Linked DNA regions of Homo sapiens. The protein of the gene in region 1 interacts with the protein of each later gene in a pairwise test. Each region holds a gene or a part of one and is shown in the gene's direction. Other genes may lie near its edges. The genes, in order: OLFM4, ITM2C, QPCTL, CLSTN3, CLEC7A, SUSD3 and SLC18A1.

What was found.
Region 2: the proteins of OLFM4 (region 1) and ITM2C interact in binary tests that used the Homo sapiens proteins (3 or more experiments, as listed by UniProt).
Region 3: the proteins of OLFM4 (region 1) and QPCTL interact in binary tests that used the Homo sapiens proteins (3 or more experiments, as listed by UniProt).
Region 4: the proteins of OLFM4 (region 1) and CLSTN3 interact in binary tests that used the Homo sapiens proteins (3 or more experiments, as listed by UniProt).
Region 5: the proteins of OLFM4 (region 1) and CLEC7A interact in binary tests that used the Homo sapiens proteins (3 or more experiments, as listed by UniProt).
Region 6: the proteins of OLFM4 (region 1) and SUSD3 interact in binary tests that used the Homo sapiens proteins (3 or more experiments, as listed by UniProt).
Region 7: the proteins of OLFM4 (region 1) and SLC18A1 interact in binary tests that used the Homo sapiens proteins (3 or more experiments, as listed by UniProt).

The regions. Positions count from the first base shown.
Region 1 is NC_000013.11:53,035,313-53,038,812, forward strand, and holds part of OLFM4 (olfactomedin-4 precursor), read left to right. Parts: intron 1-3,500. UniProt on the Homo sapiens protein: May promote proliferation of pancreatic cancer cells by favoring the transition from the S to G2/M phase. In myeloid leukemic cell lines, inhibits cell growth and induces cell differentiation and apoptosis.
Region 2 is NC_000002.12:230,874,942-230,877,344, forward strand, and holds part of ITM2C (integral membrane protein 2C), read left to right. Parts: intron 1-678; coding exon 679-867; intron 868-1,915; coding exon 1,916-2,026; intron 2,027-2,403. UniProt on the Homo sapiens protein: Negative regulator of amyloid-beta peptide production. May inhibit the processing of APP by blocking its access to alpha- and beta-secretase.
Region 3 is NC_000019.10:45,695,666-45,699,165, forward strand, and holds part of QPCTL (glutaminyl-peptide cyclotransferase-like protein), read left to right. Parts: coding exon 1-53; intron 54-2,877; coding exon of another isoform or gene 2,878-2,881; coding exon 2,882-3,034; intron 3,035-3,116; coding exon of another isoform or gene 3,117-3,122; exon of another isoform or gene 3,123-3,135; coding exon 3,136-3,235; intron 3,236-3,500. UniProt on the Homo sapiens protein: Responsible for the biosynthesis of pyroglutamyl peptides.
Region 4 is NC_000012.12:7,154,371-7,156,907, forward strand, and holds part of CLSTN3 (calsyntenin-3 precursor), read left to right. Parts: intron 1-2,537. UniProt on the Homo sapiens protein: Postsynaptic adhesion molecule that binds to presynaptic neurexins to mediate both excitatory and inhibitory synapse formation.
Region 5 is NC_000012.12:10,123,700-10,127,199, reverse strand, and holds part of CLEC7A (C-type lectin domain family 7 member A), read left to right. Parts: intron 1-491; coding exon 492-629; intron 630-1,751; coding exon 1,752-1,903; intron 1,904-2,026; coding exon of another isoform or gene 2,027-2,113; intron 2,114-3,500.
Region 6 is NC_000009.12:93,082,701-93,085,633, forward strand, and holds the end of SUSD3 (sushi domain-containing protein 3), read left to right. Parts: intron 1-1,836; coding exon 1,837-2,047; 3' UTR 2,048-2,433; downstream 2,434-2,933. UniProt on the Homo sapiens protein: May play a role in breast tumorigenesis by promoting estrogen-dependent cell proliferation, cell-cell interactions and migration.
Region 7 is NC_000008.11:20,176,637-20,180,136, reverse strand, and holds part of SLC18A1 (chromaffin granule amine transporter), read left to right. Parts: intron 1-652; coding exon 653-1,016; intron 1,017-1,643; coding exon 1,644-1,702; intron 1,703-3,500.

The DNA.
Region 1 (3,500 bases):
TAATCTTATTTTTTTTTGGTGTATAGTAGGTGTATGTATTAATGGGGTACATGAGATACCCTGAGACAGGCATGCAATGCGTAATAATCACATCATGGAAAATGGAGTGTCCATCCCCTCAAGCATTTATCTTTTGTGTTACAAACCATCCAATTAGACTCTTTTACTTATTTTAAAATGTACAATGAAATTATTATGGACTATAGTCACCCTGTTGTGCTGTTGAATACTAGGTCTTATTTATTCTTTCTAACTACTTTTATTTTTTACCCTTTAACTATCCCCACTTCCATCCTCACCCTCCATCTCTTTCTTGATGGTTATCTTCTATTGTCTCAGCAGGAACATTACATTTGATGTGTCCAATATTAGACAAAAATTGAAGGCTTCCCTGGGAATTTGAATCAAGACTAATAGGTTTCTCAGCCTTGGTAAAAACACTGACTTGAACTCTGATTACTGTTTTTTTCTTTAGCCAGAGGAAGTTATCTTAAAGGGTTTGCCTTTCTCTGGGCTGGCTGGAGCAATGTGACTTGGTGTTCTAGTTTTGACTCCTTCCACCTTTTCAGCCCAAGTTAAAAATCAATTAGAAAAGTTCCTATTTTCTGCACAGGTGAAGTCCAAGCTAGTCTATAATCACATTATGCATTATTTAATACAACTCCATTAATTTACAAGGAGCTCTGGCTTTACTGCAAGATTCAGAATAAGTTTTCCTAAGAAATTTGAGCTTTGCCACCTCAACATCCAACATAGTTATCCTTTAAAACAAAAATTATGATGAGGCTGAGACCCTACTTTCAGCCTGAATTGGTAGATAAATATTCTAAGTTTAAATGAGTGTCCAGGAAAATGTGTTTGACTACTCTAGAAACCTAGCTGCTTAAGAAATATAATGTCCTTGAATTAATCAGTGGAAAAGGCACAGCATTAAATTATAAATTCTAACCATTAATATTCATAGCCTTATTCCAGCATAATCAAGTACAGATAAGAAGTTATGCATAAAAACATAACAAGTAGAGGAAAATCCTAGGTAAAGATCTTTTCAGTTAGAGTCATTTGCTTTGAAATAGTGGAAACTACTGATTTACATGTTGTCTTTGCTGGCAGCAGTGTGAAAGGCAGTTTGAAACCTTATGTGCTCCAGGGAGAGTATGTGGCTTGCCAGGTTTGTGAATATGGGACATTTAATTCCAATACTGTACGGGGGGCTGGTAACATCTGCTTTGCTAATGACAGATAGGGAAGAAGTGCAGAATAGGTGGGAAAGTTTTAGTTCTGAATGTGTCGGTGGCTGCTCTGATCCCAAAAAAACTGTGATTGTGGCCTAAGAAAAAAGTTTATCTGCTAGCTAGGATTTATATAATCGATTTAGTGTGACAGGTGATAATAACAACAATAATAGTAGCAGTTTGTTTGTGCTTTTTCAAATGCTTCCAGTTCTATTCTCTCCTCTCAAGTAACCCTTTAAGGCAGATAGGCCAGGTGTTGTCTCTCCCATTTTAGAGACAGTAAAACTGCAGTTCATAAAGGTAAGGAGACTTGCCCAAGGTCATTCCTCTCTTGGCTGGTTAAGCCAGGTCAGAATTCGAGTCTTCAAAATCATCTCAACTCTCTTTCCTCTTGGCCATGCTGTTAGCATCCTCCAAGGTAGGCCCAGGAAGAGATGCAGTAGTAATGCCTTCAAATCCAAAGTTATCCCTTTAGCTGAGGGCTTTCGAATTTCCAAGTGAGTTATTACAGCTGTCCCTAGGTTGCCTTGAAAATTGTCATTTATCCGGGGGCCTGGGAGAATGCCCGTTTAGGACAGGCCAGTAGAAAAGGTTTTTGACTGCCTTACATTGATTCATTGTCTGTCAGTACACAGAGAAGACAGGGAGCTGCCTCTGCATAAGATGCTGAAAGCATTTTATACTTTTCTGTTGTTTACGGTATGTCCTTTTGTGACTATACTTAGGAAAGGGATGGCACAAAAGGCAGCTCAGGATTTTCTCTTTCTCTGGAGGCTTATGGTCTTTGGCATGAGTTATTTAATATGACACATTTGCTAGTAGATCCTCATGCACGGGAAGGTTGAGGCAGCCTAGGAGACATTAAGGCAACCCATAAAGAAATAACATTGATTGAGCCGTATTTGTATAGTGAAATATAATAAATTAAAAGGTCAGATTGGAAAATGCTGAAATTACTGTTTCTCTATTAATTTCTATAATTCATAGGGCCTCCATTAACTAGGCACTTAACGTACATTATCTCTAGTCTTTATGATAATCTTGTAAGCTCAGTATCATTACCCCCAGTTTACAGGAAACTAAGGGTTAAAGAAATTAAGTGATTTGCCCACTAAGTACTGAAGTTAGATTTGAGTCTAGTTGGGTCTAGCTCCAAAGTACTTTATATGTCTTTACAATCACTCCAGGCTCAATGAACCCTGTTACGTTTACTTTGAAACATATATTGAAAATAGTAGTATGTTGCAAAGTAAACGTACTTATTTCAAATAGTCTGGCCATAGTTATAATCACAGGTTTTGAGAGACTGGCAGAAACATGAACCAGATTAATTCTTTAGCTTGCTAGCACTACACCCTTATTTATTACAAGACCACATTAATTATAAGGAACAATAACAGGCACCCTCAAATCAACGCTCACACAAATTTTATTCCTCATCAATGATATAGTATGTGCATAACAAGCAAAATAAAATGGAAGCTGTGAATGTTAGGCTGGTGGCTTAAAGGCTCAACTAAAACATAGATGAGCCATCTAGTGCTCAGACTTGTCATGATGAGGAGCTTCGAGATAAAGATGTTGACACAGGACGTGTCTCCTCAAGGCTAGACCCATATTCTTGATAGAATGTTTAGCAGCGTCCCTGGTCTTTAGATGCCAATAGCACTCGCCCACCCCCCAGTTATGAGAACCAGGACAAAATCACCACCACTACCGCCCTCCCTCCATTTAGAACCACTTTTCTAGATCAAAATACAGCCATAGGTCAGCTAAAGACAGGGACATGTTCTGATAAATGCATCGTTAGGTGATTTTAACATTGGTGAACGTCATTGTATACTTACACAAACCTAGAGGGTGTAGCCAACTACACACTCAGGCTATATGATATAGCCTATTGCCAGGCTACAAACCTGTACAGCCTGTGACTGTACTGAATAATGTAGGCAATTATAATACAATGGTAAGTTTTTGTGTGTGCATATATATCTAAACATAGAAAAGGTACAGTAAAAATATGATATTTATAATCTCATGGGACCACTGTCATATATGCAGTCTGTCATAGACAAAAATGTTATGCAGCAAATGACTGTATTTTCCAGAAGAAGAAAAAAATGCAGAAAGTGCCCCAAGTGCCAGATGTGGGACTGGAGGCTCCCAGGCAGGCTGGGCTGCCTCTCCCAAGACTGCACCTCCCAGGAGGAGCTGACATGTGGTCAGCATTGTCCACGCATTCCCAAAGCTACAGATTCATATATG
Region 2 (2,403 bases), on another chromosome or scaffold:
GGATATCCAGGAAGGGCGATGGCACTTGTCCGAGGCTGGATGTGGAGGTAACCGTGATAGGGGCACAAGACTCTTAACAGTGTTGCCTCCAGCTCCACCTCCCCACCCGCCGTGTTAGGCCCCTCCAGGTCTGCAGGCCAGGACAGCAGGTGACAGGAAAGGCAGTCGTGCACAGGCGTAGGTGCCCAACTCTTAGGTTCGTCCTTGACCCCCTGCCAACCCCAGGCTCTTTCTCTGGTGTCTGCACCTCTGTGGAGGGCACGGAGGTGGCCAGGTCCTAGTCCTGCTGGGCCACCCCTTTTCCCAGTCACCGACTCAAGGACTTGGAGGCCAGAAGGGACCTTAGGGATCATCATGCTTTACTGATGGGGAAACTGAGGCCCAGAGAGGTCTGCCACCTAGAACCTGGCAGACCCAGCTCATCCTCCCTTCCGTTTGTGAAGCTGGGAAGCGCCTTGCCCAAGAATCAGCTCATCTCCTCACTGGCAGCCCCAGACCCTGACCTGATGCCCCACCGTCTCAGTTTCTCCATCTGCGAAATGGGTCTCACAGTCCCTGCTCTTCTTGCTTCCGCAGGCTTTTGGGGCATGTAGCGGACGGGTAGGCAAGAGGGGGCCTTACGGAGTGCGTGTATGACCAGCCTCTCTGACTGTCTGTCTGTCTCTCCGCCTTGCTCAGCTGGCCCGAGATAACTTCTTCCGCTGTGGTGTGCTGTATGAGGACTCCCTGTCCTCCCAGGTCCGGACTCAGATGGAGCTGGAAGAGGATGTGAAAATCTACCTCGACGAGAACTACGAGCGCATCAACGTGCCTGTGCCCCAGTTTGGCGGCGGTGACCCTGCAGACATCATCCATGACTTCCAGCGGGTGAGGCTGGCCAGGGCCTGGGGGTGGGGGGTGGGAGGGTGTCCCGGGGACTCAGGGCAAGGGGAGCAGGGATGAAAGGAGACTCCTCGGAGTACAGCAGGTGTCTACGGTTAGGCTTACCAGGGTCTTCAAGACACTGCTTTTCTCCTGTTAGCAACAATGGTTCTTGCTGAGTATGAAGCAGCCGAGGCTGATTTTCTCCTCAGCCTCCTGCCAGCTGCACGCTGGCTGTCATGGCAGGGCCAGTGCGTTGTATCGAGGGGTAGTACATTCACCATCGAGTGCATTGCGTGTACAGCTCAGCGGGTCTCTGCAGAGTGGGTCTCATGCGTATTCATGTAACCCCCATGGGTCCTGAGACAGGGCATCTCTCGCTGGGGTCCAGGCTGTCCCAGGAATGGCTGGCCCTCACAGGTTTCATAAATGCACAGCTGGGATGTTACCATGTTCCCCAAACCTCAGCTCTGTAAACATGAGAAGAAGCTTTATAACAACAGAGGCGTTTAGCAATCAGCTGCTATTTTCCTCTATCATGTGGCACCTTCTACAACAGGCTAAGAGAAGACCAGGAAAAGGGAGTGCCCGCCCAGGTATTGAGGAGTCTGGAGAGGACTCTGCTCCTGAAGGCCCAGGGTCCCAGGAAGGCATGGTGGGACTCCTGCCCCTGCTGGCCAAGCTGCTTTTTTTTTTGGAGACAGAGTCTCGCTCTGTCGCCCAGGCTGGAGTGCAGTGGCACGATCTCGGCTCACTGCAAGCTCCGCCTCCTGGGTTCACACCATTCTCCCGCCTCAGCCCCCCGAGTAGCTGGGACTACAGGTGCCCACCACCACGCCTGGCAAATTTTTTGTATTTTTAGTAGAGACGGGGTTTCACCATGTTAGTCAGGATGGTCTCGATCTCCTGACCTTTGATCCGCCCGCCTCAGCCTCCCAAAGTGCTGGGATTACAGGCATGAGCCACCGCGCCTGGCTGGCCAAAGCTTCTTGCAGCCCTGCCTGGGTCAGCTGTCACCTCCTGCAGAGACTGACCCAACCCCTTCTCCTGCCAGGGTCTGACTGCGTACCATGATATCTCCCTGGACAAGTGCTATGTCATCGAACTCAACACCACCATTGTGCTGCCCCCTCGCAACTTCTGGGAGCTCCTCATGAACGTGAAGGTGCGCAGGGGGTTGGGGGGATGTCTGCAGCATCCTGTCCCTCCCTTGCCCCCTGTCTCATGGAGGCTAGGTCTGAGGTACAGGAAGTTCCTGTGTCAGGGGTTGGGGGAGCAAGAGACATTGCTGGCACCTGGGCCCTGTACCCAGATTGGTCTCGCCTCTGCTATCCCCCTGCTTCCACATCTCCAGAGTCAATGCCCCGAGACCGGCTTCCTTAGTGTTCAAGGTTGTACCCTGGGTACGGACTCGTGCGCATGCCATTGCTCCTGGCAGCACAGGTGCAGGCACCGGGCACAGGCAGGAAGTGCCTGAGGACATCAGAAGGGCCAGCCCAGGGGCCTCTGGAGGAGGGAGGTGGGCTGGCATTTCGGGCGAGG
Region 3 (3,500 bases), on another chromosome or scaffold:
TGCTGGAGCTGGCCCAAGCACTTGACCTGGAGCTGAGCAGGGCCAAAAAACAGGTGAGGAGCAGGAGTCGGGGAGGGTAGTGGGCTACCTCCACCTTTTCCCAAGCCCCCACCCTCCCTTGCCTGGACATTTGTCATCCCTCTCGTCTTCCCACTCTACTCCACGCACAGAGCCACAGGGATCTTTTTTTTTTTTTTGAGACGGAGTTTCGCTCTTGTTCCCCAGGATGGAGTGCACATGGCGAGATCTTGGCTCCCCGCAACCTCTGCCTACTGGGTTCAAGCAATTCTCCTCCCAACCTCAGGTGATCTGCCCACCTCGGCCTCTCAAAGTGCTGGGATTACAGGCGTGAGCCACCGCGCCTGGTCATCACAGGGATCTTTTTACCTTCTAGATGTCAGATTCTCTTTCCTCTCCCCCAAACCCTCCCAGGGCTCCCGCCTCATTCCAGCCATAATCCAGAGTCCTTATATTGGCCCACGAGCTGTGCCCTGTTACCTCTCCAGCCTCATCTCCCACCCCTCACCTCTTGCTCACTCTGCTGTAGCCACCCCCACCTCCTCTGGGTTCCTCAAACCCGCAGAGCTTGCTCCCACCTCAGGGCATCTGCACTTGCTGTTTGCTTTGGATAGAATGTGCTTTTCTGGCCAGGCTCCGTGGCTCACACTTGGAATCCCAGCACTTTGGGAGGTTGAGGTGGGTGGATCACAAGGTCAGGAGTTCAAGACCAGCCTGGCCAACATGATGAAACCCCATCTCTACCAAAAACACAAAAATTAGCCAGGCTTGGTGGTGCACACCTGTAACCCCAGCTACTCGGGAGGCTGAAGCAGAGAATTGCTTGAACCCGGGAGGCGGAGGTTGCAGTGAGCCAAAGTTGCACCACTGCACTCCAGCCTGGGCAACAGAGCGAGACTCCATCTCAAAAAAAAAAAAAAATTATCTGGGAGTAGTGGCATGCTACTTGGGAGGCTGAGAGGGGAGGATGGCTTGAGTCTAGGAGTTTGAGACTGCAGTGAGCCATGATCGTGCCACTGTATTCTAGCCTGGGTGACAGAGACCTTGTCTCTTAAAAAAAAAAAAAAGAATATGCTTTTCATAGATATCTTCCTGGCTGGCTCCCACTCTTCACTCAGGTGTCCACTCCAATGTCACCCCTTCAAAGAGGCCTTCCCGGCCGGGCGTGGTAACTCGCACCTGTAATCCCAGCACTTTGGGAGGCCGAGGCAGGCAGATCATTTGAGGTCAGAAGTTCGAGCCCAGCTTGTCCAACAGGGAAACCTCATCTCTACTAAAAATACAAAAATTAGCTGGGTATGGTGGTACATACCTGTAATCCTACTACTTGGGAGGTTGAGACAGGAGGATCACTTGAAACTGAGAGGCGGAGGTTGCAGTGAGCCGAGATCGCACCACTGCACTCCAGCCTGGATGACAGAGCGAGATTCTGTCTCAAAACAAACAGAAAAGAAAAACACAGGCCAGGTGCGGTGGCTCACACCTGTAATCCCAGCACTTTGGGAGGCCAAGGCAGGTGGATCGTGAGGTCAGGAGATTGAGACCATCCTGGCTAACACAGTGAAACCCCGTCTCTACTAAAAATACAAAAAGTTAGCTGGGCGTGGTGGCGGGCGCCTGTAGTCCCAGCTACTTGGGAGGCTGAGGCAGGAGAATGGCGTGAACTCGGGAGGCAGAGTTTGCAGTGAGCCGAGATCGCGCCACTGTACGCCAGCCTGGGCGATACAGCGAGACTCCGTCTCAAAAAAAAAAAAAAGAAAGAAAAAAAAGAAAAGAAAAGAAAAACACAGATTTAATCATGCTCCTGCCCTGCTTAACCCCTCTCTGTGCCTCCCCAGTGTCCCTATAACAAAGCCCACACTCCTTGGCCCTTGCTAAACCTTCCGTACCCCTCTCAAACCTCTGGGACCCCTTCCCTGGCCATAGCCTTGCCCTGTGTTGCTCCCTTGGCTGGGAATACTCTTCCTCCTGCTCCATTTTGCCAGGCCAGTTCCTACCCATTCTCATGGCAAACATCCCTTCCCAAAAGACCCAACGCCCTCTCCAGGCCAGGTCATCCCCCAGCCTCCTTCCTATGCCCTCTCAGGACTCTATAGTTCTTAGAAGCATTTGTCTCAACTGCATTTCACTGTTTGTATAATTATTCATTTGTGGATCTATCTGGTTCACCAAACTGAGCTTGAGGAATAATAATCAGAGATAACCCTTATTTAGTTATATGCCAGGCACTGTTCTAAGACCTGGATTCAAACCTTACCCTTTGAAAAGAACTGTTATTGCCGGGCGCGGTGGCTCACATCTGTAATCCCAGCACTTTGGGAGGCTGAGGTAGGTGGATCATTTGAGGTCAGGAGTTCGAGACCAGCCTGGCCAACATGGTGAAAGCTTGTCTCTACTAAAAATACAAAAATTAGCCAGGCATGATAGCGGGAACCTGTGGTCACAGCTGTATGGGAGGCTGAGGCAGGAGAATCTCTTGAACCTGGGAGGTAGGGGGTGGAGGTTGCAGTGAGTCAAGATTGCATCATTCCACTCCAGCCTGGGTGACAGAGCAAGATTTATTCTAAAAAAAACAAAAAACAAAAAAAAAACAAAAAACCTCTTATTAACCCCATTTATAGATGAAGAAACTGATCCTTCCAGAAGTTAGTAACTTCCCCATGCCTGCTTTGTTATGAAGCAGCCAAGTACGGATTTGATCCCAGACAACTGACTCGGAATCTGTGCTCTTGGCTACCACGTTCTATGAGTGAGGACACCTTATGTGTTCTCTTAAGCATGCAAGCGGGCAAGAAGTGTGGGTATGTTGAGGCTGAGGGCTAGTCCTGAGCTGGCTCTGGCCACCCCCCTGCTGCTCCCACAGGCAGCCCCGGTGACCCTGCAACTGCTCTTCTTGGATGGTGAAGAGGCGCTGAAGGAGTGGGGACCCAAGGACTCCCTTTACGGTTCCCGGCACCTGGCCCAGCTCATGGAGTCTATACCTCACAGCCCCGGCCCCACCAGGATCCAGGCTATTGTAAGACCAGGGTCCCCTGGCTTCTGGCGAGGGAGGGAGCAGGTTAAGCAGGGCTGGCGTCATCCTGCACGGGCCCCTCCAGTCCTAGCCTTTCTCCTTAGGAGCTCTTTATGCTTCTTGATCTCCTGGGAGCCCCCAATCCCACCTTCTACAGCCACTTCCCTCGCACGGTCCGCTGGTTCCATCGGCTGAGGAGCATTGGTAAGGGTGAATGCGGAGGTGGGCCCCAGCCCACCTGGGGTATGGGGTACAGGGCGGTGGGCTGGGGTAGGACAGGCACCTACACTCTAAAGGCTCATCCACCAGTCTGGGCCACATAGGGAGACCCCATCTTTTTTTTTTTTTTTTTTTTGAGATGGAGTCTCGCTCTGTCACTGAGACTGGAGTGCAGTGGCATGATCTTGGCTCACTGCAACCTCCACCTCCCAGGTTCAAGCCATTCTCCTGCCTCAGCCTCCCGAGTAGC
Region 4 (2,537 bases), on another chromosome or scaffold:
AGGGTAAACTGGAACAGTCAGGGGAGATTTTGTGGCACATGTAGAGTTTGCATTTGGACCTGAACTGTAAAAGGGATTTTTGGATGGGTGTGAGAGAGAATGGGAATTTGAGAACCGGGGGTAGATAGGTGGTTAAGAGTGTTTATGGTTAGAGAGAATAAGGTTGGTTGAGAAGAGCAAGCCGGATGATGAGGGTATTATGTATCTACTCATATCAAATTTTGATGACTGCCAGAATCACCTGGGGAGCTTTAAAAACTCTCGGCACCTAAATTATACCCTAGAATGTCTAGGGGGTGGGAGCCACGTGTCAGTGGTTTTTAAAAATCCCATGTAATCTTTAAAAGTTTGGGAATAATTTTCCTCTTTTGTTTCCTACAAGTATCTGAAGCTTTGCAGAAAGAGTTACAAAGCAATAGGACAAAAAGAAAATGAATGAGGAAGTAAGGAGGAACAGGTAATGATGAAATAAGGATCCAATGAAGCCAGGGAATAAAGTCAGCTCATAACATGCGTACTATGAGATGCTATGCAGTTGCTACCACGGGCCAGAATTTTGACCCTGAGCTTCTTCAAAGCTAAAGCAAAAGGAAACCTGAGCAGTTCTGAGAGCCGTGATAGGAGCCAAACGCTATTTCATGAAAAGCCCTGGGAGTGCGGGGGGCAGAAAGAAATCTCTCCCAAGGCTCTTTGCAAAGAGAGCACCGTGTGGGGCCATGGACAGGGCTTTCCACTGTCCTCGCAATCCCATGGACCATTTGCTAAGTCACCCCTTAATGTTGGCTCTGGAGGTCATTCAAGGCCAGAATTAACTGCTCAGATCTCATGTAGCAAGAAAAGCTGAACGCACTTCTTAAATTCTTGATTTTTATCTGTAGCTGATTTAAAAATCCTCCCATCTCCCCGGGCTCCTGACTCATCTTAAACTAATTAACCAGACTTGTTTGCTTGTAGATAGAGTGTCTGCATTTTGTCTTTCCTGTGGTCATTTCTTATTGTCCTGGCAATCAACTTGTCATTTCCTTCATTAGGCCAGGAGCTCGGAGGGACACTGCATTGATTAGGGCGCAAACCAGCTTTAGCTCGTCATCGTTGTGTGCTTAGAGGAAGTTCACCTGCTTTGGCCTCCACTCTGAGGGTGGGGTCACCACCCCTTCTGGAGCCTGGGCTTAGCCACTGGGCCCATCTGCCAGTGAAGGCACTGCCCCTGGCTCTGGTCTGTTGACGTGGAGACCTGAGAGACACTATTTCCTGCAGATGGGCAGGAGAGACAGCTCTGTCCCCTCCTCCCTTATCCCCCGTTCCCAGGAAGTTGAGAAATACTGATCCAGCCAGTCCTGTCTTCACCTTGGAACCAGTGTCGAGGGAGTGTGCCCCAGCAGAGTCCGTTCTAATTGGCTGGTGGCCTCAAGTGGGCTGTGGGTCAGGATGGGGACCAACTTGGCAGACAGCCATCAGGGTGGCCTCAGGGAGGTGTGTGGCCTGCCCAGGCAGGGCATTCTCCACACACCTAGTTGGCCCTGGAGTGCGTGGCAGCTGAGTGTGCTGGCTGCTGGGGAGAGGGGCGCTGCAGCAGGGTGTGGGTGTGAGTGTGAGGAGCTCCTGGGCCATGCGCTTCCCTACGCTCTGCTCTGTCTGTTGACACATGAGTCTCAGGCTGTAGGTAATTTGCGGACGGGGCTGGAATGCGATGTGTGTATTTTTCTAGGGGCTTGCTTGTGTGACTGCTGGTCTCTGTGTGTGTTTGGGGCACACATACATGGAATAGTCCCTCAGCAACGGGACCGCCCAGGGAGGAGCTGCTGTGTATGCATGGTGGGCAGGGGTGTGCACCCATGTGGGGAGTAGTGACCCAGCTGCCCGTAAGGGCCCTGGGCCTGGAGGTGCGTGTGTGGGGTCTCTGCCTCCACCTGCTGTCCCTGGGGCTGCGGGCTTTCCTGCTTTTCTTCCTTGTGCTTCTTCGAGAGCTGTGTGTGTGTGTGCAGGAGGCAGGCAGGGCTGTGCTCATGGCGGCTCGCTCTGTGGCCCTCACGGCCCACGTCTGTAGTGTCTATGTCTTCCTTCAGGGGGTTGCCTGGTCTGCCCAGCTGGTGGGGAGCTGGGTGATGCTGCACATATGGCTCTACCGTGCCTTGCTGGAGACCCCCAGACGCGTTCCTTTACTCCCGCAGTGTGAGCAGGCGGCCAGGTGGCTGGTGTGGGCCAGCATGCAGGCTGGCAAAGGCCTGGCTCGGGTGTGGGGCGTGGCAACCTTTGTGCAGCTGTGTGCCCACACGGTCTTCCTGAGCATGTACCTGTGCATGCACATCTGCTTTGCCGCCATCAGCTCTAAGGTCCGTGTGAGAGTGAACGCACCGTTCTGTGTCTCAGTGCCCTTGAAGGTCCATGCCCCTCTGAGCCTGGGCATCAAAGTGGGGCTGCAGGGCCAGAAGCATGGGAGAGCCACGGGGGAGGCAGGTATGCCTCAGGGGGAGATGTTGGGGAAGCAGGAACCCCAGACGTCCCGGAGCCCCAAGCCCACCAGGAGAAGGGAGGTG
Region 5 (3,500 bases), on another chromosome or scaffold:
ATTTTTTTTACATTTTATATCACATGCAATCTGTTGTCAGTCACCTTCAGAGAGTCTTCATGACATTCCTTAATTAGTCAAATGTTTATTGAGTGCGTTCTATGTTATAGGTACTGGGCAGTTTCTCAAGGATCTCTCATTTTTAAATAACAGAAGAAAGGTGAAAGATGTTGCTATTTCAAATCTGTCATGGGTCCAATTGACTCTATGACATTTGCCTCTTGCTGCCTCCCTCATTCTATTTCTTCTTCTCCACCTTCTTTTTTCTTTTCTTTTTTTTTTTTTACTATACCTCCTTTATAAAAGTTATGTATTTCTTTTCATCTATTCTATCAATCGTCTTTATCTCTCCACAGCAATATATCATCTATTTATCATTAATCAATAATGTATTCTTTTATTCCAATAACATTTGGGTTTTGGGATTTTAATTTTCAAACACAGCAGAATGACATTTTTTCTGTCACTATTATTATTGTTGGTATGTGAAGCTATTTGGAGATCCAATTCAGGAAGCAACACATTGGAGAATGGCTACTTTCTATCAAGAAATAAAGAGAACCACAGTCAACCCACACAATCATCTTTAGAAGACAGTGTGACTCCTACCAAAGCTGTCAAAACCACAGGCAAGGGCATAGTTAAAGGACGGAATCTTGACTCAAGAGGGTTAATTCTTGGTGCTGAAGCCTGGGGCAGGGGTGTAAAGAAAAACACTTAGATTCAATGATTGTAAATTTAAGGCAAATACACATATTAGTATTACCTTAGTGTAATGTATCCCTGTCATATATACAATAAGGTGAAATTATAAGTACCCTATGCAGTTGGCTGGACAGTTCTAAATTGGACTTTATTAATTTTTAAAATCAGTAACTGATTTATCACTGGCTATGTGCTTAGATCTACAGGAGATCATATAATTTGATACAAATAAAAGAAAAGTGTTCTCTCCCCTTACAGAATTGACATTTTAAATGCGATACAGTTAGAATAGGAAATATGACATTAGAAAGGAAGAATGACAGGGAGAAAGGAAAGAAGGGAAAATGTTGCCAAGAATAAGGAAGCTATATTAAAAATATACAAAAGAGGTAGACCTAATACACATGTCCCTGAAAACTCATCAAATTTGTTTAATCATACAATTTCATTTACTTAATTACAATTCTATACACACTTGACTTTTACTTCTAATTGCATCATAATTGACTATGACTTAATGTTTTCAGTTCAATTTTTCATCTCTGGACCCATACCTTCTCACTATTTTTATTAAGTAGCTAATAATATATAACAGAGATAGTGTATAATATGAATAATTGGCCTATACTTTTCTCACTTGGAAAGTCACATTATGAAGTAGATCTTACATCATAAAATAAGTAGCAATATGAAATTGCTGTGTACCTCAATGACTGATTGTGAGTGGACTTATTTTAAGGAGTTATTAAGGAGAAAGGTAGTTTTGAGCTGAATTAGAAGGAATAGAAGACAAGTGAAGAAAAAAAGGATGGTTGGCTGCCTAAAATACTATTTATAGCTAGTTTGTTTTTAAATTTTAAATGAATAGGAAGATTTTAATGTATTCTCATCTGTAAAATCATATCCCTGTAGTTCGAATTGACAATGAAATATAAAAATGGCAACTAATTGGTTATTTCATAAGTGTCCTTAAGATGAATGGTGTTCACACTAAAAGAGTGAATTGGTATGCTATGAACCTCATGGTACTAATCTTTTATTTCCAGGGGTTCTTTCCAGCCCTTGTCCTCCTAATTGGATTATATATGAGAAGAGCTGTTATCTATTCAGCATGTCACTAAATTCCTGGGATGGAAGTAAAAGACAATGCTGGCAACTGGGCTCTAATCTCCTAAAGATAGACAGCTCAAATGAATTGGTAAGTGTAGACTTCTGTTATGATTATCTGTGGTGTGTATCCTGAAGGAAGATAGAGGGAGATTCCAGGTAATGACAATTTTTCCTAAAATGAAGTCTTTTTTTTTTTTTTTTTTTGAGGCAGAGTCTCACTCTGTTGCCCAAGCTAGAGTGCAGTGAAGCCGCGACATCCCAGGCTCAAGTGATCCTCCCACCTCAGCTTCCTGAGTAGGTAGGACTACAGGGTGCACCACCACACTCGTCTAATGTTTTTTTGTATTTTTCATAGAGACGAGGTTTCTCCATATCATCTGGGCTGGTCTCAAAATCCTGGGCACAAGCGATCTGCCTACCTCGATCTCCCAGTGTTGGGATTACAGGTGTAAGCCACCATACTTGGCCAAAATTCATTTTTAATATCTCTATAATTATAATCATAGCATGCCTTAAGCACATAAAGTGCATAGTATATGCTTTTATTTTTAACTAATTTAAAAAACTGTGTTTCGCCTTAAAACAAATCCTTTCAAACATACTCCATGTATGCATGACTACAATAATCAGGACACTACCCATTTTTGTGAGTTTGTATTTCAATTTTTAAATATGGTGGAAGTAAAGTAGAAAATTCTTCTCCTTGTCATCATAATTATCAAGAAAAATGGCAACAATGATAATATATGTTTAGAAATTATTTACTCTTTGCAAGATACTGGGAAAGGCAAAGAGGGTTAAAACATAACCCTGCTATCACAGGACACATATAATCTTTTAAGTAAAAAAAAAGCAACTCAGCAGCTATTAAAAGTTAAATATCTGGCATTAGCAATAAATTCTATAGGAGTTTAAAGAGATCCCCGTGTTCCTAAGAAGTTTTCAGAAAAAGTGGCACTTATAACACATCATGAATGAAGGGTAGAGCTTCAATGAGGTAAGATAAGGGGTTAATAGGAAAAATTCTATGTTATAAATCTAAACCAGTCTATAACTTCTACACCTACTTTCACTATTCTTATTTTGTTTTTGTTTCTGTAATGTCTTACCCAGTAGTAATAATTTATATTAAAGTTAATGGAACTAGATATATGGCAAAGAAAGAGTACTGGATTACAAGTCTATCTGACTTTTAGGCCAGCCTATAATTGAAAATAAATTGTTATAGATTTGTAAACAATTCAGATATCTTCACTGAACCTCAGATTACATATTCATAAAATATACAGTTGGACTAAATTATTTTTAAGTTGTTACCTAACTCTGAGAAGTACTTCTTAACGAAAGTAGCGTCAATTTATTTCTTCAATTGGAGGAGAAGACAATGGCTAATCATCCATGAAAACTGCCTAGGGGGACTGTCATCTGGGATTTTGTCAGATAGGTTGAATGGAGGCAGTACAGTCCTCACATTACAAATCTATTCTTTTGGAAAATTAAATGATAATTACTTTAAATAAATAAGATAGGCCTTTTGAGACATTCAATGACATTCAAAAATTGGCACTTCTCTCTAGGTTGATGTCAGGTTAGGCATGCATTCTTTTTTTTTTTTTTGAGACGGAGTCTCGCTCTGTCGCCCAGGCCGGACTGCGGACTGCAGTGGCGCAATCTCGGCTCACTGC
Region 6 (2,933 bases), on another chromosome or scaffold:
CAGAGCTCCTCCATTGCCCCACCTGTGATCCCCACTCCCCATTACAGCACTGGGACCAGATCATCCTGTGTCATAACTGGGAAAGTGCCCATGGAATGGGGGAAGGAACAATTGCCTCTCAAGGCAACATGGTGTCCAGGATGATGGCAGCCACAGCTGCTGCCGCTGCCGCAGGGGCTTTGCTGGCCAGAGCATGATGCCGAGGGGCTCCCAGGGGTGCTGTTTGGGGCCACACTTCTGCCTGGTCCCAGCGCCACAGACCCTGCCTCTTACACTGCGGGAACTTGTGCAGTGTGTGGTCGGACGTGTGCGTCCCGTCCAAGAGTGGCCACAGATCTGTGTACAGGGCTGTGTTCACCCCCTCTGGGGAGTGAGAGAGCCAGGGCGGGAGGGAGGCACCCTGACAGGGCCGTGAGAGGCTGGAGGAGGCCGGCTTAGGGGCCACTCTGACAGTCAGCTCAAGAGGCAGGAAGTGGTGGTGAGGCTGAGGGGGATTGGGAGGGGGACCCTTAGGGCAGAGCCCCTTCCCGGAGCTCTCTCACACATGGAGACCTCGAGCACTCAGCCCAGCTTCATGGGGACTCAGAGAAGGCGGGTCCTGCCCAGGGCTACAAAGCCGATGGAGGCAGAGTTCCCTGAGTCCCCAGCCCTGGGCCCCGGGCTCCCAGGCAGGATCCTCGGGATATGCCTGTGCTGGGGCTGCCCACCCCTCAGGCAGGGCCCAGGCTGCCTCCATAGGTGGTAAATTGCCTTTAGCAAGGTGAGGTTTGCCTCTTGACCTTGTTTTTATTTCATAAGTACTTCTCAGCACTTGCAATGTGCCAGGCACTGTTCTGAACTCTTCCAAATATTAACTCTTTTCACCTAGGGGTGGGTACTACTTTTATCCCGTTTTCCAGGTGAAGAACTAGGCAGGTTAAGAAACTTGTGTAGACTCCCACACAACCAGTAAGTGAGGCTGGGTGGAGTCAGTCTGGCTCCTGCCTCCCCGAAGCTGCCTTTCGTCTCCACCAGTTATTGATGCTTTCACTTACTCATTGCATAAGCAGATCATTTCTTAATTCCTACTACTTACTAGAGTTTTTCTGAGAATTAGTTGTGGGTGGGAGCCGTGATCCAGGAAGGCTTCCTGGAAGAGGTGATGCCGGAAGTGAAAGGACTAAGAGAGCCTGCTTTGGGAGGGGAGAGAGACAGCCTCTGAGGGGAGGAGAGGACATGCAAAGGGCTGGAGGTGGGAGCCGCCAGGCAGCCCACATGGAGCAGAGGCCAGTGTGTGTGTGGAGGCTGGAGATGGGACAGGGCCAGGGTCTGGTCAGCCTGGGGAATGGCTTGGTTTGTATCTGGGGGAGTAGAGAGCCACAAGAGTACTGAGGGTGGAGCAGGTGGGTGATCCAGCTCCTGGCTACCAAAGAGGCAGGCCTGGCAGGAGGGAAGATGTCCTCCCCTTGACCTCCTGCTCCCCAGCATCCCTTCTCTGCCTGGGACATCCCAGGCCCTGGCCAGACAGCTGGGTTCCTGGTGGTTTCTGCACACTCTGAATGAGCCCCAGGAAGTCCCTTCCCACACCTTAGGGGGGCAAGTGTCTGACTCCTGGGCCACGCCCTGGTTGTGTAGATGAAGGACCCACTTGCCAACAGGGCCCGGCAGGGAGATGGAGTGACCTCTGTGCACCTTAGGGTGCAGGGCAGCTCCCAGCAGGAGGAAACGGGCTCCCCAGTGCTCAGGGCAGCAGTTGCCCCAGGCCCACTGGAGGGCCTGGGTACCTGGGAAGGTATGGAGTTGGGGATTAAACCCTATCCACACTCTTTTGCCAACTCATGCCTCCTCTCTCCACAGAGACCATGGTGAGAGCACCAGCAAGCTGGCCAGTGTGACCCGCAGCGTGGACAAGGACCCTGGGATCCCCAGAGCTCTAAGCCTCAGTGGCTCCTCCAGCTCACCCCAAGCCCAGGTGATGGTGCACATGGCAAACCCCAGACAGCCCCTGCCTGCCTCTGGGCTGGCCACAGGAATGCCACAACAGCCCGCAGCATATGCCCTAGGGTGACCACGCAGTGAGGCTGGTGCCCATGCTCCACACTGGGAGGCCAGGCTGACCCCACCAGCCAGTCAGCTACAACTCCACATCAACTCCACATGCGCCCAGCTCGAGACTGATGAGTGGAATCAGCTTCCAGGTGTAGGGACCCCTTGAGGGGCCGAGCTGACATCCAAGGCTGAGGACCCCAGTGGGGAGTGTTCTGTTCCGGCATATCCTGGCCGTAACGATTTTTATAGTTATGGACTACTTGAAACCACTACTGAGGGTAATTTACTAGCTGTGGCCTCCCACTAACTAGCATTCCTTTAAAGAGACTGGGAAATGTTTTAAGCAAATCTAGTTTTGTATAATAAAATAAGAAAATAGCAATAAACTTCTTTTCAGCAACTACAGAAAACTACCTCAGCATCTTCCTCCACAGGATGTACTGCTTCCAAGCAAGGACCCATGGAGGGTTCTGCATCTGTTGTCTGTAAAAGTGCAGTTGAGGGGTATGAAGTAAAACTAAATAATTATTTCTTTTTTTTTTGAGACAGAGTCTCACTCTGTCGCCCAGGTTGGAGTGCAGTGGTGCAATCTCTGCTCACTGCAAGCTCCGCTTCCAGGTTCAAGCGATTCTCCTGCCTCAGCCTCCTGAGTAGCTGGGACTACAGGTGCCCACCACCACGCCCACCTAATTTTTTGTATTTTTAGTAGAGATGGGGTTTCACCGTGTTAGCCAGGATGTCTCGATCTCCTGACCTTGTGATCCACCTGCTTCGGCCTCCCAAAGTGCAGGGATTACAGGCGTGAGCCACCGTGCCCAGCTAAATAATTATTTCTAATACTGAAAAATACAAAGGTAACAGTGGTTGGTTGATGTTAGAGTCAGCAGAGGAGACTTCCCTTTTTT
Region 7 (3,500 bases), on another chromosome or scaffold:
CACACACACACACACACACACACACACAATTATAATCTTAAATCTTAAACATCGTGGTACATCGTGTTTTCTTTATAAAAGAGAAAAAGAAGTTCAGAAGTGTTAAGTGACTTGCCCAAGGCCTCTCCACTAGCAGGTGCCAGAGTTGGGATTCAAACCCTGTCCAGGGGTCCCAGAGCTGAGGCTCCTCTGACCACCCTGCCCTTCCTCCTCCCATCCCCTCCTGTGGCCAGGTCTGTGTGAGAGCTGGACATGTCTGTGAAATGTCGTGGTAGCTCAGTGTGTGTTGGTTTGGGGGGTTACATGTCAATCTAAGTGAGTAGGAGAGTTAGCCAATGTGGAAACCATGAACAATGAGGACTAACTGTATAAGGTCAGAATTTAGCTACTTTAGCTAATAGGATAACTTGGGCAGGCACAGTCTTTTAGTAGGTTTTAACCATGCCACTCCAGATACCAGCCTTGGGCATAAGGCTGAACCTCATCATAGTCCCCTGATCCTAGTAGTGGTAAGATGACATCTGTCCTTAGCCCCCATCACCTGTCCTCCTTGACTTTCAGTAGAATTGACATCTGTCCTTAGCCCCTTGAGTTTCAGTGGTAAGATGACATCGGTCCTTAGCCCCCATCACCTGTCCTCTTTGACTTTCAGTGCCAATTGTGCCCACCTTCCTATATGACATGGAGTTCAAAGAAGTCAACTCTTCTCTGCACCTCGGCCATGCCGGAAGTTCCCCACATGCCCTCGCCTCTCCTGCCTTTTCCACCATCTTCTCCTTCTTCAACAACAACACCGTGGCTGTTGAAGAAAGCGTACCTAGTGGAATAGCATGGATGAATGACACTGCCAGCACCATCCCACCTCCAGCCACTGAAGCCATCTCAGCTCATAAAAACAACTGCTTGCAAGGCACAGGTTTCTTGGAGGAAGAGATTACCCGGGTCGGGGTTCTGTTTGCTTCAAAGGCTGTGATGCAACTTCTGGTCAACCCATTCGTGGGCCCTCTCACCAACAGGTATCTCACTGGGTGCAGTGCCCCGCAGGGTACACAGGAGTAGGAGGACTAGAAAAGTATAGAAAGGGGGTTGGAAGGGAAAAAGAAGAAATACTCACTTGTATGATTCCTCAGGGGAGTCAGCTATTCGGAAAGCTCGTTACTCAAAGAATAACATGTTACTGATGAAATGTTATGGGATCAGATTTTCTTAGTGATATATTGAGTATTGAGTACCAAGAAGAGAACCATGAACAGCAGTGTGCTGTGATGTTCTATCAGTGACCTGGAGCATGGCTTGAATGGGAAAAGGGTATGAATGGGACAGTCCTGTTGTAATCTAGAGCACTGGCTTCCCAGGAGTTGTATTGACGATTATTCTGATATTTTCAAGAGATATACACTCCACCTAGGCTATCATTTCTGGAAATGAGAATTTTGGCCCTGATCTATGGTCATATCTGCATGTTTGTTTGTTTGCTCATACTCATCCACATGCCCTATTTCATCTCCACACTACATTCAGAGGCATGTTTTACCATACACCCAAATAGCTGCATTTCTGCTCCCACTTACATTTAAAAATGTAGTCCATGTATGTGAGTGCCTGTTGGAATTGTATCTTTTTTTTTTTCAATTCCCTTTTAGGATTGGATATCATATCCCCATGTTTGCTGGCTTTGTTATCATGTTTCTCTCCACAGTTAGTAAGTAATTTGCTTCCTCTTTTCTTCCCTTCACTGATTACCTTTGATTTTATCAAGTGAATGCGGTGTAGATAGCAGGGTAACCTAGAATGTAATTAGGCATCTGACTAAGCAGACTGGAATATTGGTTTAAATGCTCTGCTGTTTTTGGTATGTGGACTAGAACAGTAGTGACAATTCAGTCTAGTTGGAATTGGTCTATTCTGCTATAGAAGAACAGATATTTTATTCACTTCACTTCAGCTGGACATAATGAGAGCTGTTTGAATATGTATGCTACGGGGTGTGTGTGTGTGTGTGTGTGTGTGTGTGTTATATGCATCAGTAATCCCTTGAGCAAGTTTAATACAAACTTTCCATCTATGAGAAGCAATGATATTATTTTGTTATGCCATGGAAAAGGGCAACTCACAAAAAAATGGAAATTGGACAATAACATCTGGAAAATTCCAAAAAGCCTACTGCTTTTCAGTTAAGGGCTTTAAAGGTTAAGCTTAGAAAAGTAAATTTGCTAAAGAAACAAGAAAGAGAAAGACAAATACTCTATCCAGGATCAGCTAAATGTTTCTAATAAAATGGAGATGGGATAAACACAGTACATGAGAAAAGTAAGTCTGGAAATTGATGCTGAGAAGTAAAGGAAGAAGGAATGAAAAGGGTTAGCGTTAGCAGGTTAAGGCAGGGGAAGGCAGCCTGTGGATCCAGCCTTGGTTCCCGATGGCCCTGCTGAACCTCTGCTCTCCAACAACACACCTCCTTCTCCCTCGCGTTTTTCTTTTCTTTTCTTTTCTTTTTAATTATACTTTAAGTTCTAGGGTACACGTGCACAACGTGCAGGTTTGTTACGTATGTATACATGTGCCATGTTGGAGTACTGCACCCATTAACTCATCATTTACATTAGGTATATCTCCTAATGCTATCCCTCCCCTCTCCCCCGACTCCATGACAGGCCCCGGTGTGTGAAGTTCCCCTTCCGGTGTCCATGTGTTCTCTGTTCAATTCCCACCTATGAGTGAGAACATGCCTCTCATTTTTCTTATTACCTTTCTGTTCCTTGTCTACTTTCTGTCTTCCTCTTCCTCAACTTTTCTTCTTTCCCAGCACAGAACTTGATTCCTAGCAACCCAATATTTAACAAGAATTTGTTGCATTCTGGGCTGGAAGGCTGCAAACTGCAAGAACTTGAGATGTGAGGTTGTCTCTGAGAACTACGTCTTGTTTGTGAAATTTTAGTGGACTTGAAGAAAATGAAGAAATTCAAATTAGCACTGTTCATGGAACTTCTAGCAGTTCAGCCTAAGTTAGACAGCAAATTTAAAAATAATAAGATGCCAGGTGCCCTATTTCATCAAATGAGGCTTAAGATTTATTCCAAACAACTTTATGCAGTGCATGTATAATGCCCAGATGGCCATAGTCACATAAAGAATGAAAAGACATGATTCCAGCTATCAGAAGTGTATATGATGGTTGCCTGGGGAGACATGAGACACACACTGAGAAGTAAGACAATGCGGTGTGCTAGTGGATCTGAGACGTTTTAGCATGATATCCTTGCCTGATTCTCTGCCAAGAATTCATGTGTTAAAAGCTTTACTTTTAAAGTAAACTGTATATGTTAAGTAATTATTGTTTAACTTATACCAAACTATATATGTTAAATAATTATTATTTCCATAGGATAGCTGTGTTGCTATATGGAGTTGGCCTAATTCTAACCAAAAGAAAATACATTTGATGTTTAGGGTATCCTTGTCCAATGTTCTAAAAAATACTTAAAAGAGATTGTTGATGC